Linked DNA regions of Homo sapiens: region 2 is linked to region 1. The links come from fine-mapping of genetic effects on gene expression. A gene starts in region 1. The other region holds a variant in brackets. All regions are shown on one strand. Distances are from middle to middle.

What was found. PIP is the estimated chance that this variant, and not a neighbour inherited with it, causes the effect. A credible set is the group of variants that fine-mapping cannot tell apart.
Region 2: its variant is the best candidate, but not a certain one, in a credible set for the expression of PDCD1LG2 in fibroblasts (GTEx, PIP 0.67).

What each region holds. Positions count from the first base shown.
Region 1 is chr9:5,507,735-5,512,133 of GRCh38, reverse strand. PDCD1LG2 (programmed cell death 1 ligand 2) reads right to left here and starts at 1,603. Exons shown (of 7, transcript NM_025239.4): 1 at 1,331-1,603. The region is part of intron 2 of INCR1 (interferon stimulated noncoding RNA 1); the gene reads left to right. RefSeq lists enhancers at 1,505-1,554, 1,715-1,774, 1,835-1,914, 1,856-3,055.
Region 2 is chr9:5,485,249-5,489,647 of GRCh38, reverse strand. All of the region lies in intron 2 of INCR1 (interferon stimulated noncoding RNA 1), which reads left to right. Among named protein-coding and RNA genes, the nearest start is that of PDCD1LG2, 23 kb to the left of the region's middle. The variant C/T (reference allele first, on the strand shown) is at 1,857.

The sequences.
Region 1 (4,399 bases):
TACTGGTTGCTGTCCAATGTATTGTAAAGCAAATAAACTCTGAAGCATGACCCATAATACTGTCTCTACCATCTCCTTTTTCAAATCAACCTCAAACTTCCCCCTGTCCATTACACGAACATTTCATTTCTGGTGATTCTCCTGACATTTCATCAAATAAATCCATTCAACAATTCGGCAAGCACCCACTAAGCACCTATGTGTATTGCCAGGTACTGCACTAGGAACTTGGGACTCAGAGAACCTTAAAGGTGTGCTTCTTGCCTGTGAGGAGCTCCAGTTCAATGGAAAAGCTCACCAACAGGAGAAATCTGGGGAGAAGACACCCTGAAGCAGCAGACAACAAAGAGCCTGATGATGGGGAGACCTCAAATAATGAAGGCAAATAGATCAGGTTCCAGTGGCAAGAGCAGCAGGACCAGGATTGTTCATCCACTCACAGAATCTTAGGCTTGGAAAGGAGCTTGGAGGACATCCAGGCCAACTCCGTATTTGACCCTGATACAACTGTCTCATTACTGCTCACACTGAATATTTTTACTCTGCATTTTGTCAATTTAGGTCTCTCATTCCCTGCCCCTCAGAGCCATAGTATTTTTGGGTTAAAAGTCCTGATTAGTTGGTAATCTCACTCAGGCTTAGCCTCTCCACCTCCATCCCCTCCACATGAACCCATTGCCTTTGCTCTTCTACTCAGTGCATCCAGGCGGTGAGCAATCAATAGCAATTATTTCAGTTCTGTTTAATTTTTCTACCTTTTCGCTGATCATTTTATATGGAAAGAATAAGCCTTTCCATAGTCCCCAAATCATGCTTTTGTTCAATAATGATTACCTCTATAAGTTATTAAGATAATAGTTTTGGGTTTTTTGTTTTTGTTCCCCCTCCACCAACAGCTGCCTCTTAGGCATAGCTTGTAAACAAAGGCCAGCCTGGAGGGATCACCGTCTGCTAAATGGATAATCACAAACAGATGTCAGTCATAGGAAAACAGATTTTTAAGTTCTTCACCATTAAGCCTCCGAAAACTCTAAGCTGAGAGACAATCTTAAGAATAGTTATATTATTTTACAGTGCACATATTTGGTGCAGAAAATATCTCACCTTATAAAACTGAGCAACAAGAACAATATGCATAGGAACAAGTGAGAGAAATCTGGGGCAGGAGGACATTAGCTTATTTGTGCCCCTCAGCACAATTTCTGAGGCAGAATGTCTCTTGCCTCAAATGGTGTGGAGAGAAGGTAGGCCACCCTTCCCCCACCCTGGCAGCCTCATCATGGTCCACAACATAATAGTATGAGAGTATCTCAACCCACTCGTTACTCACATGAGGACTTGCCACAGCTCCACAAGTAAAGATGCAAAAGTAAACAACAAAAAACAGTTGCTGTTTGTGTTAGATTTCCTTATAGTAGCCACCAAAATGAACAGCCAAAAGGAAAAACAAAACAATCAACATGCAGTAGCTCCAACCCAGGATTCTTTCTAGCTGGGACATATGAGGATGGGTAACAAAAAAGCACTCAAAATTTGGCGTTAAGATATATTCAAGAGAAGAAAAGTTGTTCATTCAGCTTAAGGTTTGCCGTAACATGAGAGTGAGTCAAACCAGAACTAGTTCTGAGGAACTGACGAAAGCCTGGCTTATTTGGAAAGTTTTGGTTTTGCTTTTAGCAGTTTGTCTGTGAATGGGATTGCATTCCTGATTTGGCTCTTGGCTTAGCTATGGTTGGTGTTTAGGAATACTAGTGATTTTTGTATGTTCATGTGGGATCCTGAAACTTTCTGAAGTTTATCAGCTTAAGGAGCTTTTGGGCTGAGACTGTGGGATTTTCTAGATATAAAATTATGTCATCTGCAAACATGGGTAGTTTGACTTCCTCTCTTCCTTCTTGGATGCCTTTTCTTTCTTTCTCTTGCCTGATTGCTCTGGCCAGGACTTCCAATAGTATGGTGAATAGGAGTGGTGAGAGAAGGCAGCCTTGTCTTGTGCCGGTTTTCAAGGGGCATCCTTCCAGCTTTTGCCTATTCAGTGTGATGTTGGCTGTGGGTTCATCATAGATGGCTCTTATTATTTTGAGGTATGTTCCTTCAATACCTGGTTTGTTGAGAGTCTTTTTTTTAACATACCTTGAGAGTTTTTAATACCCTTTTATTCCCTCTCTTTCCCCTATTCTTATATGTGCTCCAGCTTCCCCATTGTCCCTGGAGCACATTTAGGAATAGGGGAAAGGGATGGAATGAAGAATACCAGCATGTCTTAGTGCTGTGCCAGGAAATTGACTCATTTCCTAGGGCTTCTGTAACACATGACCTCAAGTCCTTGGCATTCCCTGACTTATAGTTGTATCACTCCAATCTCTGCCTCCATCTTCAAATGACATTCTTTTCTGTGTGTATCTCTACATTCCTCTCCTCTTATGAGGATACCATCCGTTTGATTAGTGCCCACCCTAATGCAGTATGACCTCATTTAGACTACATCTGCGTAGACCCTACTTCCAAATATAGTCACATTCTGAGGTCCTCAGTAGACATGAATTTGGGGGGAACATTATTCAACTAACCTCACTTCATTTCATAGTGCCTCATTTCATTCTCAGTGCAATGTGTGGTTTAGAGTTAGACCCATTTTACACATGAGAAAACAGGACCAAGATCAAACAATGTTTCCTTAGTTGCATGGCTGAATTTGAACTCGGACCTCAGTGGCCCCACTATACCTTCAGGCTTGTGATTGGTGAGATTAAAACCACATGGCAAGAAAAGGCAAACTTGAATATAGGCCTGAATGATCAATCCTTCTCCTGCTGCCTCCCGCCCTTTTCCTTGTGCTTATAGGGGTAGGACCAGCAGAGATGTGGGGCTGAACACTCAGACAGAGGATGTTTTTAAGAAAACATCTCTCCTTGCCTGTCCTCTAAGCCTTCCCTGCCTCCTTGTTTCTTCTACAAAAGCAAGGATCTCCTTTCCTCCTCCTTGTCCTGCATCCTCTTTTCGTCCCATCGCTTGAACAAGAAGTACTTTAAGAAGTACTACGAAGCTGTGTAGTACCTACAGATGGGAGTGGCTGCCTAGACGGCAAGAGTTGGGACTGTGTCTGTGGGACCCGTGCTTCCTCTGGGGATCTGCTTCTACACCCACGGCTCCAGGCATGTGGTTTCCTTAGGAGTTGCCATTCTCTTACCTGACCCTCTGTTCCTGGCCACAGTGACTGGCTGAGGAATGGACATATGTCCCCTGTGTGGCTTTGAGTTTTAGTATCTATGGAAAACACACCTCACCTACCAGAGTTCCTGTCCTTCTTTAGGAGTGAGGTGCACTCACCACAGTTTCCTTTCCTCTCTCTTGGGTAGCCTTTCTCCAGGCTTGGCCTGCCTCTCCTCTTCACACTTTCCTTTGGGCAGTTCAGCTCTGCTTTGCCACAGTTTAGGGCATCCTGAAGCAAAGGAAGGCCCAGGTATATTCACAGCAAGGCCAAATGAAACTCAAGCTAGTGTCTCAGCACATTAGCCTGCCTCATAAATCTATATGTCTAGAGAAAATAATGGAGGGTTACAAACCAAAGTGTTAATAAAGGCATTTCTGGGTGGAGGTAACTTTTTTTAGTTTTTTGTTAAACTTTTGTTTTACATAGGTAACTTTTTTAGTTTTTTGTTAAACTTTTATTTTACATAGGTAAACTCGTGTCATGGAGGTTTGTCATACAGATTATTTTGTCCCCTAGATACTAAGCCTAGAACCCAGTCATTTTTTTTTTTTTTTTTTTTTTTTTTTTTTTTTTTTTTGCTCATCTCCCTCCTCCCTGGGGCCTCCACCCTCAGCTAGGCTCCAGTTTGTGTTGTTCCCCTCTTTGTGTCCATGTGTTCTTATCACTTAGCTCCCACTTATATGTGAACACATGTGGTATTTGGTTTTCTGTTCCTGCATTAATTTGCTAAGCATAATGACTTCCAGCTCCATCCATGTTCCCGCAAAGGACATGCTCTTTTTTACGGCTCTATAGTATTCCTTGGTGTATATGTACCACATTTTCTTTATCCAGTCTGTCGTTGATGGGCATTTAGGTTGATTCCATGTCTTTGCTATTGTGAATAGTGCTATGATGAACATGTGTGTGCATGTGTCTTTGTGATAGAATGATTTACATTTCTTTGGGTATATACCCAGTAATGGGATTGCTGGATTGAATGGTAGTTCTGTTTTTAGCTCTTTGAGGAATTGCCACACTGCTTTCCATAATGGTTGAACTAATTTACACTCCACCAATAGTGTATAAGCATTCCCTTTTCTCCATAACCTTGTCAGCATGTTGTTTATTAACTTTTTTTTTTTGAGATGGAGTCTCACTCTGTCTTCCAGGCTGGAGTACAGTGGTGAGATCTCAGCTCACTGC
Region 2 (4,399 bases), 22 kb after region 1:
TTTTATGAATAGGGAAACGGAGGCATAGAGAAGGTAGATAATTTGCTGAAGGTCAAACATCACAAAAGTGGGAAAACAGATTTAAGTCCCGATAATCTGGCTCTGGGTTTCCTTTATTTACTATTGCTCCTCTTTATTGTTATGATAATACTAGTAATAATGGGCATCTGTGGTTCTGTCTTCAACCAAACACTCCTAAGATAAACAGATAAAGTCAAGGGTGATCAATCTTGAGCTTGTTGAGTAAAGTGAAACTTCCTAAGAGTGATCAAAAGTGGATTAAATAAAAGAGAGTTAAATAGAGCCCCACCTGGCCTGGGATTGAGAACTAGAAAGATATCTTTAGGGACAGAACAATTGGTGATTTTAGTTGGGGGATTTGTGATGTTATCCAGCAGAGACAAGCTTTGCATTAAAAGTAGGATGTATGTGGGCATCTTTGCTTTTCTTCTTTGTCGACTCTAGTTCCTGTACCTCGCTGTTTCTTCTGTCCTTTCTTCATAGGCTACAGCTGCTTTATATCTAATAAACATACACACTATTAATCTCTCCTGAGTGTGCACATTCTGTGTGTGTGTGTGTTGATGTATGGTACATATGTAATTTGTCTCCATCAATTATGAACTTCCTGAAAATGTTATTAATTCATCTGACTTAATAAACATTTTACTTCACGCAATGTGTATCCAAGGTCATGAAATTATGACCTCACTGCTCAAGAAAACAGGAAAACAGTTGCGCTGAATGAGGTACCTAAAGCTGCCAGGGGCCCAGGCAAGAGGCCTGAGTAATGATGTGATGTACTAAGAATGAAGAGACAAGGATATCCGGGAAACTGACCAAAGAGTAGGCAGAGTCAGCGAGCTATTGTGCAGTGGACAAGAAGGAGATTGGCACTGCTGTAAGGGCTGGTCTGGAGATGAGGCACAGTGCATTTCAATTATGGATACCACAGCGAGGATATTCATTCCCTATCCACACCCACACTGGGCAGTCAACATTCCTCTTCTAGCAAGAGATTTTAAAGATGATCATGGTACTTCAACTAGATACTAGCTCACTTACAAAACACATTTGCTGCATATTCTTTTCAATAGCTTCATGTGTTTGTGTATGTGTGTGTGCATGAACATGCGTGTATTTGTAGTTATTCATTTCCAGTAACATCTTGACATTCAAACCAGAGCATTCTCATAACTGTCCTGACTTTTGAGGAAGCAGCCTCCTGTCTCACTTCACCATCTCCACATTCACTCCTCGGTTCCCTAATAGCAACTCCTCTACCCTTCCTAGCCACCCAACTTGAGGCTTTCCTGACTCCGTTCACGAAATTTCCCATTGCTTCCCTTTCACATAGTTTAGGAAAAATATCAAAGAGATACTTCTTTCTGAGCTCCATGACCTACATTCATCAATATTTCTTAGTAACAATTTAGATTTTCTAGATCCACTTTCTCTAAAAGTCCCAACTGCCCTCACAACTTAATCTTTGAATCAACCTACCCAGAAATACCAACACTCTACAATAAAGACATTTCTTCTTTCCATGCAATATAATGAAATCAGTTTTGAAACCAAGAAAGAATCCATATTCTAGGATTCTAGGACTATCCAGGATGTTTAGAAAGGATTTAAGGCTGTTTACAAGGGCTGTTAGATACAGCATACAGCATACAGCATACAGCATACGGTATACATAACATACAGTAAAAAAGCTCAGGAAAGTGGCGCTAGAAAGGGAGGGAAATAAGAAGAGGTCAGAATCACTGTCGCCTCCTCTCCCCGGGCACAAGTCAGGAAGGCATGCTTACTGTCAGGATCTGCGGGCTTGACATGCTTGTATTACCATCACATTT[C/T]CCAGGCTTACGACACCCATCACCTGGCTGTCCTCCTGCTTCCATGTCCTTTTAGTTCTTCCTCCACACTGCAGCCCAAATGATCTCATAACACAAGCTGGATCAATCATTTCCCCCTACTTAAAACTTGCAACTGACCGGGCACGGTGGCTCACGCCTGTAATCCCAGCACTTTGGGAGGCCGAGGCGGGTGGATCACAAGGTCAAGAGATCGAAACCATCCTGGCCAGCATGGTGAAACCCCATCTCTACTAAAAATACAAAAATTAGCTGGGCGTGGTGGAGTGCACCTGGAGTGCCAGCCACTTGGGAGGCTGAGGCAGGAGAATCGCTTGAACTCGAGGGGCAGATGTTGCAGTGAGCCGAGATTGCACCACTACACTCCAGCCTGGTGACAGAGCGAGACTCTGTCTCAAAACAAAAACAAAAACAAACAAACAAAAACTTGCAACCACTTCCCACCGCATTTAGAACAGAATTTGGACTCTTCACCATGGCTGTCACGGGCCTGCGTGATGCACAGTCTCATCTTGTGCCCCTCCCTGCTCTGCTCTCCACTCTCTAGTCACCCTGGCCTCCTTTCTAGCCCTTGAACTCCTTAACTCAATCTCTCATCAAAGCTCCTGTGCACATTGTGCCTCCTGCTGGGGGTACGCCCTTTTGTATGGCTGGCTCGGTTTAAATTCAACCTTTTTGAAGAAGCCCCTGTCCCAGCCATCCCATTTAAAATTGGTTCCCAATTTGGCAATTATTTAGCTTGGTCCCTTATTGATTGGTATTGCTGCATTTATATAGTCATTTGTTTATTCGTTATATGTTTCCACACATCCACTTCCTTGACCCCTTATTAGAATGTGAATTCCATGAGGGCAAGAACCATGTCTGTCTTGTTCCCTCTTGAATCCTCAGTGTCTAGCTTGAAGTTTGACATGTAGTAAATGCTCAGTAAATTAGTTGAGTGAAAGAATAAAATTGATTCTAAGCTTTCTAAGCCAAGCTTGGACAGTTAAACAATTAATAATATTTCCAAGATTTGGGGAGCAGGGGCAAAGCTAAGCAACTTTTCACTCGGGGAAACACAACTATTTTGTGTTTGTGTGTTTGTATTAAGGTCAAAGGGAAATTTTTCCTAGTGTTCTTTAGAAAGCACACTAGGTAATGAAATAAAGAGTTCCTCATCATTATTTTTAGACCGTATTTAATAACTAGTTTCAAAAAAGTTGTTTTATTAAAATAACTTCATGAAAGGCTAATGGCACTATAGATACTACAATTCAATGTACACTTTTCTTGCTAGGATACCAGTACCAATATGGTGTTGTCCAGATACTCAGTTATAACCAATTCTGATAGGTCTTCCATCAAATCTATATACTCCTCTTCCTCCTGGGAAGCTACCCTACATTTTCCAGTCTCCCTTGGGATTAGGTTATGGTCATGTGACTAAATTCTAACTAATGGAATGTGAAAGGAAATTATGCGCATCATTCCTAAATCTAGCGCATAAAAATCTCCCACTGAGATTCTGTATGCCCTTCTAGTCTATTTAACTGTATGGAGACCTCCAGGGAAAATTTGAAGACCACATGTTGAAGATGGCAGAGCCGTTGTCTATCTGAATCCTTGAATGATTACATGGAGCAGACTGCCTGCCTAAGTGAATATTCACTCTGTTTTTTTGTTTACATGAATTTTACTCCATGCCTAAGACGCAACATATATATATATCCTTTTACCAACTCATATATGCTGTTAACAATGTGATAGGCCCTATTTTTAAATTTTTGCACATATTAATTCACATAATTATCCTAACAACTCTCTGGGTCAGATACGTAGATGAAGAAATAGAGACACAAAGAAGTTAAGTCACTTACCAAAGGTCAGATAAACAGGAAGCAGCAGAACCAGAATTCAAACCCAGATAAACTAACCCTAAAGTCCGTATTTTTAATCAGGTTACTATTTACACTCTCTGTTTATGTAGTTCTAAAACAAAAGCTAACTAAATAAGCCAAGCCTCAGCCTTTCCCACATATTTGTTTCCTAAGACCGCGTGAAGTACTTGGATTTTTGGTACTGATTATTGTGGATCACAAGACATTATTTCTCAACCAATGTTTGGCACATGTAGGTCTATCAGTATGATCTTGGGTGTATTATTATCTCTGGGTTTCTTCTTTTTGTTTCATCAGGTTTCTTTTAGAAGGGAGAAGGAGACAGAGATAAGATTGTAGGAGCAGGGTGTAGATCTGGGGGTAAGGGTGAGAAAAAGAGCTTGACTGATGACTTGCCAAGGTATTATCAGCATAGTGAAGAGACAAACTCATTTATTTGTCTCAGTTAGCCTAACAAATCCATGTACCACAGCCTTAAAAAGGTCAGAAAACACAGCCCTAAAGGATCTTTTGATCTTTGAATCAGCTGAATGATCAAACTGAATAAATTTACGAAAACTAGTCTCATTGCCAATGTAACTCTTGACGATATGTCAGACATGAAGCCCGGACCCTGCCAGATGTCCTGTGTAGGTAGGACTTCCC